2 linked regions of the Homo sapiens genome follow. The protein of the gene in region 2 interacts with the protein of the main gene of each other region in a pairwise test. Each region holds a gene or a part of one and is shown on either strand. Other genes may lie near its edges. The genes, in order: CPSF7 and TUT4.

Evidence for each region.
Region 1: the proteins of TUT4 (region 2) and CPSF7 interact in a two-hybrid assay, tested with the Homo sapiens proteins (one large-scale study listed by BioGRID).

What each region holds. Positions count from the first base shown.
Region 1 is NC_000011.10:61,405,682-61,409,699, forward strand, and holds part of CPSF7 (cleavage and polyadenylation specificity factor subunit 7), read right to left. Parts: intron 1-4,018.
Region 2 is NC_000001.11:52,550,293-52,554,510, forward strand, and holds the start of TUT4 (terminal uridylyltransferase 4), read right to left. Parts: upstream 2,801-4,218; 5' UTR 2,639-2,800; intron 2,546-2,638; exon of another isoform or gene 1,919-2,545; intron 1,115-1,918; exon of another isoform or gene 1,065-1,114; intron 513-1,064; exon of another isoform or gene 388-512; intron 1-387. UniProt on the Homo sapiens protein: Uridylyltransferase that mediates the terminal uridylation of mRNAs with short (less than 25 nucleotides) poly(A) tails, hence facilitating global mRNA decay. Essential for both oocyte maturation and fertility.

The sequences.
Region 1 (4,018 bases), on a different chromosome or scaffold from region 2:
CAACACAGCCTACGCACAAATGTTTACCTTTTATATAACTACTTCTGTAAAGTGGCCTTATAAAACCTAGAGGAGACATCTACGTCCTCCCTGATCCTTGTACACACCGAAATGACACTATTTTCAGCTTGGGTCCTCAGAATCTATATGGCCTAAGCCTTCCTGGCCTGTCTAAACACCTACGCAGGCTGGTATTTGTCCCATTTTCTCTAAGGGAAAACTGAAGCCCTCAGTGCACTCAATTACATACCATTAGGGCTTCTGAATCTTTGAATTCGATCCAAATTGAAGAGAAAGCTCAGTTTTCAATGGATAACGAGGACAGGAATGACGTGAGAATGACTATATTTCAAGTAGGATAATGTCCTAAAATAATGAGATAACTGACATAGTTGAGAACTACAAAAAGTTGAAGACACAGGTTGCAGAGGATAACTTGTACACCAAGAGAAGCAAGCCATAGCACTGAATTCTTAAATCTCCATGGCTACATTTTGGTGCCAATGTTGGAATGCAGGCAGAAATCAGAGATTCCTTCAAGTGGGCCAATTAGCCTTCAGGCCCCAGAACTGGGTCTTACGCCGAGAAAAGATGGACAAAGAAGGCTACTGTTCTATTGCTGCCTCTGGACAAAATGTACCTTTCACTCTCAGGGAACAGCTGTCATCATAGAATATAAATATGATTCATTTCTAACTAAAAGGTTGCTATAAATGAGGACCATGTACCATCTTCCCAACATGAAACTTCCTAAGCCATAACTTGGTCACTACAGATGGAATTAAGAGTCCTTAGGGTGAGAATGTAAGAAATTGACATTCTTGGGGTGCCTGATTCAGTTCTTTCAGACTATTATTCAGATGCAATAACCACTATATCAAACGGGTGACCAGGAAAAGTGAGGAAGTAGAAAACCTGCCTCAGAGTTAATTTTTCCCATCTTGTCATGGGCCTACACAAGTCAAATGACTGTTTTCTAGGCAATATTGTTACAGCATTTTCAAAGTTACCAAAAGAGAGTTATCCTCATAATGGGAGAAATAGTCTCATCTTATTTTATTTTTATTACTATTTTTTTTGAGACAGGGTCTTGCTCTATTGCCCAGGCTGGAGTGCAGTGGCACAAACATGGCTCACTGCAGCCTCTATCTCCCGGGCTCAAGTGATCCTCCCACCTAAGTGCCCCCAAGTAGCTGGGACTCCTCCTGCCTCAGCACCCCCAAGTAGCTGGGACTACAGGAGCACATCACCATGCCCAGCTAGTTTTGTATCTCTGGTAGAGACGAGTGTTTTGCCATGTTCCTCAGGCTGGTCCCTGAGCTCAAGCGATCTGCCCCTCTCGGCCTCCCAAAGTGTTGAAGTTACAGGCATGAGCCACTGTGCCTGGCCCCATTTTATAAGTGGAAGAAATAATGCAAAGTGACAGCTAAAGACTCAGGTTGAGATGTTTAATTCTCAAACTACTGCTGGATCAGTGGATCTCGCTGGTAATTTCCCTGTCATAAGGCTGTCAGGAGCAAAGCCATCAGGAATGGTGACATGCATTTATGTTCTAACTACTAAACTGAATGCAGCCCCAAAGACGACAGTGCATGCTCTGCACAGGTCAATCATCACCTTCCTGTTCACTCTTATCCCAGTCAGCTCCAAAAGACATACACTGTAGCCTACATGTGCTTTTCAACCCACAAGTAACACTAGCAACTGTGCAGACTCAAACAAGAAAAGGGAGTTAGGACTGGACCAAGACCAACTCTAATGCCTGCCCTCATGCCCACCTGAGACTGAATTAGGCCAAAGTTGTTTGTGGTCTCCATCTACAATAGCGTCTGCTTTTCCAGAGGATACATGGGCATCTCCCCAAACTCAACCTGTTGCAAAATCTAGAAAGAAGTACCTGGAGCCCACAGCCTAACTGTTGATTCTACATGAGTTAACCTAGATTTCAATGATGTTAAGCACTCTAGGATTTTGTGGAATAAATGAGTGGCTAACAACAGAGAACAGAGACAAAAAATATTAGTAATTTTTCATCTTTCCACTTACTTGTTTGGGAGAAGATAAAAACAATTCCTGGCTATAAATCTATTTAAGCTAATGGCCAAAGAACAAGACAGAGGGCAGTAGCCAAACCTAAAAGGAGTATTTTGGTTTTTAGTAGGTTGTCACTGGGCAAAATACTGCTAATTTTCCAACTATTTACATTCCAGCTACTGCTCATGAACTATAGGGGCTCACAGGTGGTGAGTTTCTTTGTCCTTCTTCATCCAGATATCGCCATCCCAAAGACACCAAAAAGAACTACTATTCTTTCCCCTCACCTTCCTTTTCAATTACCATTACTTTAGATCAAGCAGGCAAATAATCAAGGACATCTTTTTTTTTTTTTTTTTGAGACAGAGTCTCACTCTGTCGCCCAGGCTGGAGTACAGTGGCGCGATCTCGGCTCACTGCAAGCTCTGCCTCCCGGGTTCATGCCATTCTCCTGCCTCAGCCTCCTGAGTAGCTGGGACTACAGGCACCTGCCACCATGCCCGGCTAATTTTTTTGTGTGTATTTTTAGTAGAGATGGGGTTTCACCGTGTTAGCCAGGATGGTCTCGGTCGGGATAGAGACGGGGTTTCACCATGTTAGCCAGGACGGTCTCAATCTCCTGACCTCGTGATCCACCCACCTTGGCCTCCCAAAGTGCTGGGATTTCAGGTGTGAGCCACCGTGCTCGGCCAAGGACATCTTCCTAATGTACTTGATGTGAGACAGAGAAATGGGAAGTCCTAGAGACTTATAAATCTGCAACCACAAAATTAAGAAAGGACCCTGAAGTTACCTGGGTCACGCAGTAGCCTCCAAGAACTACAGACAGACCCCTAGCCACTCTGGCCTATTTTAAAGATTTCCATAGAAGCAGAGACAACACCTGCTCCTATATGCTTATATAATAGAAACAATCTTTCCAGAAGTTTTCCTTCAGTTGGGATTGCTAAGCTGGTAGGATGCAACCTAAAGACACAGCACCCCCTCTGACTCCCTACCAATATGGAGCCTGTCTAAGAATGAAAGCAACAGAGAAAAGCAGAGCTGAGAGATGCAGATAAAGTCTGGATGACACAGCCAGAGCCCCTGGATCCAACCAATCTTAACTGAACTTCTCCATTACTTAAGAGTTTTTATCCCAACCTTCCTGCTTTCATTTTGCTTCAAAAGAAAATTACAGCCAGTCGCAGTGGCTTCATGCCCATAATCCCACAGCACATTGGGAGGCTGAGGCAGGGGGATCACTTGAGGCCAGGAGTTCAAGACCAGCCTGGGCAACAAAGCAAGACTCTACAAAAAATTTAAAAATTAGCCCTCAGGAGGCTGAGGCAGGAGGATCACCTGAGCCCAGGAGGTTGATGTTACAGAGCCATGATGGTGCCTCATGACAGTGCACTCCAGCCTGGGTGACAGAGTGAGACAATGTGTCTATTAAAAAAACAAAAACAAAAACAAAACAAAACAAAACAAAAAAACAGCCGGGTGCGGTGGCTCACGCCTGTAATCCCAGCACTTTGGGAGGCCGAGTCAGGTGGATCACGAGGTCAGGAGTTCAAGACCAGCCTGGCCGAGATGATGAAACCCCGTCTCTACTGAAAATACAAAAATTAGCCGGGCGTGGTGGTGGGCGCTTGTAATCCCAGCTACTCGGGAGGCTGAGGCAGAGAATTGCTTGAACCCGGGAGGTGGAGTTTGCAGTGAGCCGAGATTGCGCCACTGCACTCCAGCCTGGGCAAGAGTGAGACTCTGTCTCAAAACAAAACAAAACAAAAAACACAACAACAAAATAAACAACCTTGTCACTAAGTCTTTTCCAAAAGCAAAAAACCCTTCCGTTGAAGTTAATTATCCACCACAAAGCCTCTAAACCTGTTAAAGATAATTTTTCAGATCAGCTTTCTCCTCTCTGACTAAAGCATATTAATTTTCAAAATCTTTTAAATAAACCGTTTTTTTTTTTTTAAAGAGATGGGGTCTCGGCCAG
Region 2 (4,218 bases):
CCCTTTCCTTTGACTTTTTTAGGTCTTTCTGGAATTGTTCTTTTTTAGAACGTATTTCTATCCTACTGCAGTGGCTTTAACTGAATTTAACATTTTTTAATCAATTCAAGTATTTGCAATTTATTTGAAAAAGGAACACAACTCATTGAGTTCTATTTTGTCAAACAAAATGTTCTGGCATCAACATTAACAGGTAAGTATTGCTTTTTTTTTTTTTTTTTTTTGTTTAAGACAGGGTCTTACTCTGTCGCCCAGGCTGGAGTACAGTGGCGCAACTGTGCCTCACTGCAACCTTGAACTCTGGGCTCAGGCAAACCTCCTACCTCAGCTTCTGGGACTACAGACGCACACCACCACGCCCAGCTAATTTCTTTTATTTTTTGGCAGTGACAAAGTCTCACTATGCTGCTCAGACTGATATCAAACTCCTACGCTCAAGCAATCCTCTCGCCTCCACTTCCCAAAGTGCTGAGATTACAGGCGTGAGTGAGCCACCTGGCCAGGCCCTACAGGTAAGTGTTGGTTATTTTGTTTCTCTGAAACTAGAAACTTTAACAGTGAATAAATTCAAACACCTTTCTTGATCAACAGATCCTGATTTGACATTCTGTAGAGAACACAACATAATTAATGGTACTTATTTTTATGTCAAGATTAACTTTGAGATAAAAAAGAATTCTAATTACTTACTCTAAAATGAATCTGCTGAGAGCTAATAAAAATTCTCTTTAAACAGCTCTTTGTTAATCAGAGAAATTTATAATTATACATTTTGATTCTAAAAGGTCTAAAATTAAAATGTAGACACTGTACTGTTCTAGCTCCAGCAACTAAAAATAAATGTAATTTTAGGTGTCACTTAGAATTTATAAACTTGAACTTATATGCATGACAATATTTGTTAATTTATCTGTACTAACAACTTGGCCTATGACAATGAAAATACTTTAAATTTCTTTTCTGTATTTAAATGTTTGCTGGATTTAAAACATCAAATGTCATTAACTTTCACTTCCATTTCTGAATTATTTTAAGAAAACTTCATTTTTCATTTTCCACACTAGCCAAGTGAAAAACTGCAAGCAGCAGAAAAATTTATCTAAGAGTTTTAAAAGTAAGTTTCTTTTGTTTATATTAAATATAAATATTTTTAAAGCATAAAACGACTTAAAATTCTTATCTTCCCCAAAGTATATGGTTTCTAAGAAGCAATCTTTAAAAATTTGTTTATAAAAGCAACATAGCACACTAGACACTAATGAGTTATCTTAAGCACAGCTTTTTAAGAGAATCAATATTTCATTTTACCAGTTGTGACTAATCAGTACTACGATGCAGTGTAGTGACATACATGAGTTCTAAGCCTAAAGAAAATTTCAGCGCGCTCGCGCGCGCACACACACACATACACACACACACACAAAGTCGGCTTTTCTTTTTAAACCATCCCACAATTCAACACCTCTCGGTGGTATTCTCTGAATTATCATATCTGGCTGGGATTATCCAATTTTATTAGCTAACAGTTCTCATTACTTTAAAAACAGAAACAGGATATGTTCTGTTTCATCAAGTGCTACAAACATTTCGCTGCTGTAAGACTGGAGGGAAAAAATCTTTGGAAATAAAAGGCCATCTGATCCACTCGGGCTAATTACTAAATGCATGCCAACAATACACAATTCGAATTGCATTTCTGGACACAATTTAAGATCACGATAGGGCAGGTCAAATGTGTAAGGAACTACTACTTCTATCAAAATGAAGAAGCAGATATACGGTATCTAAGATCTCACGCAAAATTCATCTAAGACTTCGAAATCTTCTGAAAAGAAAATGTGTAATCAACGTTGTTAATACAACAGTAATTCATCCCATTCAAGTACGACTAGAAATCCCGCTGATGTGCTTCTTTCAGGTCTAAACATCTCATTCTTTCGCAATCCAGATACCAACAGGAGTCTGAAACCCTTCGCAGAGGCGTGCAACACACTAGGAGAGCGCTATCTGTTTACAAATACGAATCTCAGTTACCCACGTCAAAACCGCGCATTACCACCTTTCGACTGGGGGGCGGGGGAGAGAGAAGGCGGGCGAGCAAGAAACAAAATCCACACAGACACCTCTGCCTTCTCCCTACAAGGACGAGCCCGGGGAAACATTCAGTATGTATTATATGCGTGTATACATTTATATACATTATGTAGTCACCTATGTCTAAGCAAGGGTGAAAGAAAAAGGTACACATGACAGGGAATCGTAACTGGACCCAACAGAAATGTTCAAACCAATCCCGTTAACTCAAAATCCGCCCCGCTGGTCTACAACAGGTTTCGGTCCGGGACCGGGAGCCCCAGCCACAGTGTGGAGTTCGTCCCCAAAGCGCCCCAATGCCCTCCTCAGGCCGCCCAGGCCGCCGTCCCCACCTCCCTTATCTCAGCCTTCCCCTGGGACACCCGAAGCCCGTTCCAGGAAAGAAAGAAGTGTCAGGCCCCCAGGGGGCGGCTGAGACGCTCTCAGGCCAGGCCCCCGACACCTGCGAAGCGCGGCACCTGGGGAGGGCGAACCGGGGGCCGCCCGGCCTTCCCGAGCACACCCCCTCGGTACCCGACGCTGCCCCGCGGCCGGAACCTCGTACCTGCGAGGCCCGCGAGCTACAGGCGCGCGCGACGCCTCCTCATCTCAGTGGCTCCTGCTCTCCCTCCGCCTCCTGCTGCCGCCGCCGTCGCCGCTGCCGCCGCTGGAGGCCGGGACACGACTAGCTCAGGACTCCACCGCCATGTCCGCCGCGCCGCGAACTGCATTGTGGGGGGGAAGGGATGGGGAGGGGGAGGAGGAGGGAGAGGGAGAGGGAGAGAAAGAGGAGGACCCGCTGAGGGGAGGGGGCGAGGGAGAGCGGTTGCCGGGGGAGAGGGGGAGGGGAGAGGACAGAGCCTGTAATGGGGTCCTGGCCCGGGAGAGGAGGAGCTACGCGCAGAGGGAAGGGTTCAGGGGTGCCCCCTCCCTTCGTTCGGGGGGCCCCACAGGCACCGTTTACACCGGGGCGGGGGAGGGGGGAAACAGCACTGGGGGGAGGGGTCTCGTGGTGGCCGCGAAGAAACAATGGGGAGAAGGCCGAGGTAGGAGGATCGCGCACTCACACCCACGCGGAGGGAAGGGAGCGCGCGAGAGACACTCGTTAGCTCGCGAGGAGGGGGCGGGCCGCTGGCAGAGGGGAGGAGGGAGCCACCCGGGGCTCGCGGGCAGGGGCGGGGCCGCCGAGCGGAGGTCGCGAGGTCCCGCAGCCCGCCTGGGCGCCGCGGGTTAGCCGCGCTGATTCGCCCGCTTGCCGGAGTGGGTGGGGGTGGCGGGCGCCCCAGTGCTGCCCCAGTCTGGTTCCTAGTCTCTGCCGAGGCCCCCGAGCTGGAAGCCGAGCCCGAGGGCCGCCTCGGCGCCTCGCTCCCAAGGCTGCTCCCCCTGGGGAGGAAGGCCGGCCTGGAATGGGTACCCTCTGGCCTGGCACTCGGACTGGGCGTGGCCCGAGCCTCGGCGGACCCTCGGAAGCCCAAGCGGGCTTCGGAGCAACGGTAGGGAGCGGGGCAGAGGAAGCCGCCAGGGTCGACCCCCACCCACTCACCACGGCCTCCAGCCCACCGCAGCTGGACCTTTTTTCCTTTGAAAAGGCAGGCAGTTCAGGAATGAAGGAGCTCGAAGAGAAATCTCTGGAGCACTCCATCTCCCACCCCCAAAAGAGGTTTTAGAAATCATTTCTTTAGCTGCAGGCGGGCATAAAACCATCTACCATCAATGGGCCCCCTCATCCCCTTGCTTTTAACGTATTACATTCCTCTACATAATTATTTAAAGTCACGGGCGGAACGGACTTAAGGTTTTGTTAGTTTTGTTTTTTGTTGTTTTTTTTTAAGACCCCAGCCTCAGAGATTATTTAGCCAATCTCTGACCTCAAAGCTGGACAAAGCACACAACCTCTGTGCTCTGTGCCCAGTCCTTTGAGTTTGACACATGCTAGGCAGGAAAAAGGTATGAAAAGAGTGGACGTAGAGGTGAAGGGAAGATGTTAAATCTTAAGTATTTACAAGATAGTGCCTTATAAATTTTCTTATAATGTGACTCAGGCTGGGACTGGTTAGAGGTCACAGAGGGACGCTCCACTTCACGATAGCCCTGTGAGTTACGTACTGTTGCTCTCATTTACGGATGAAAAAACTAGGGTTCAGA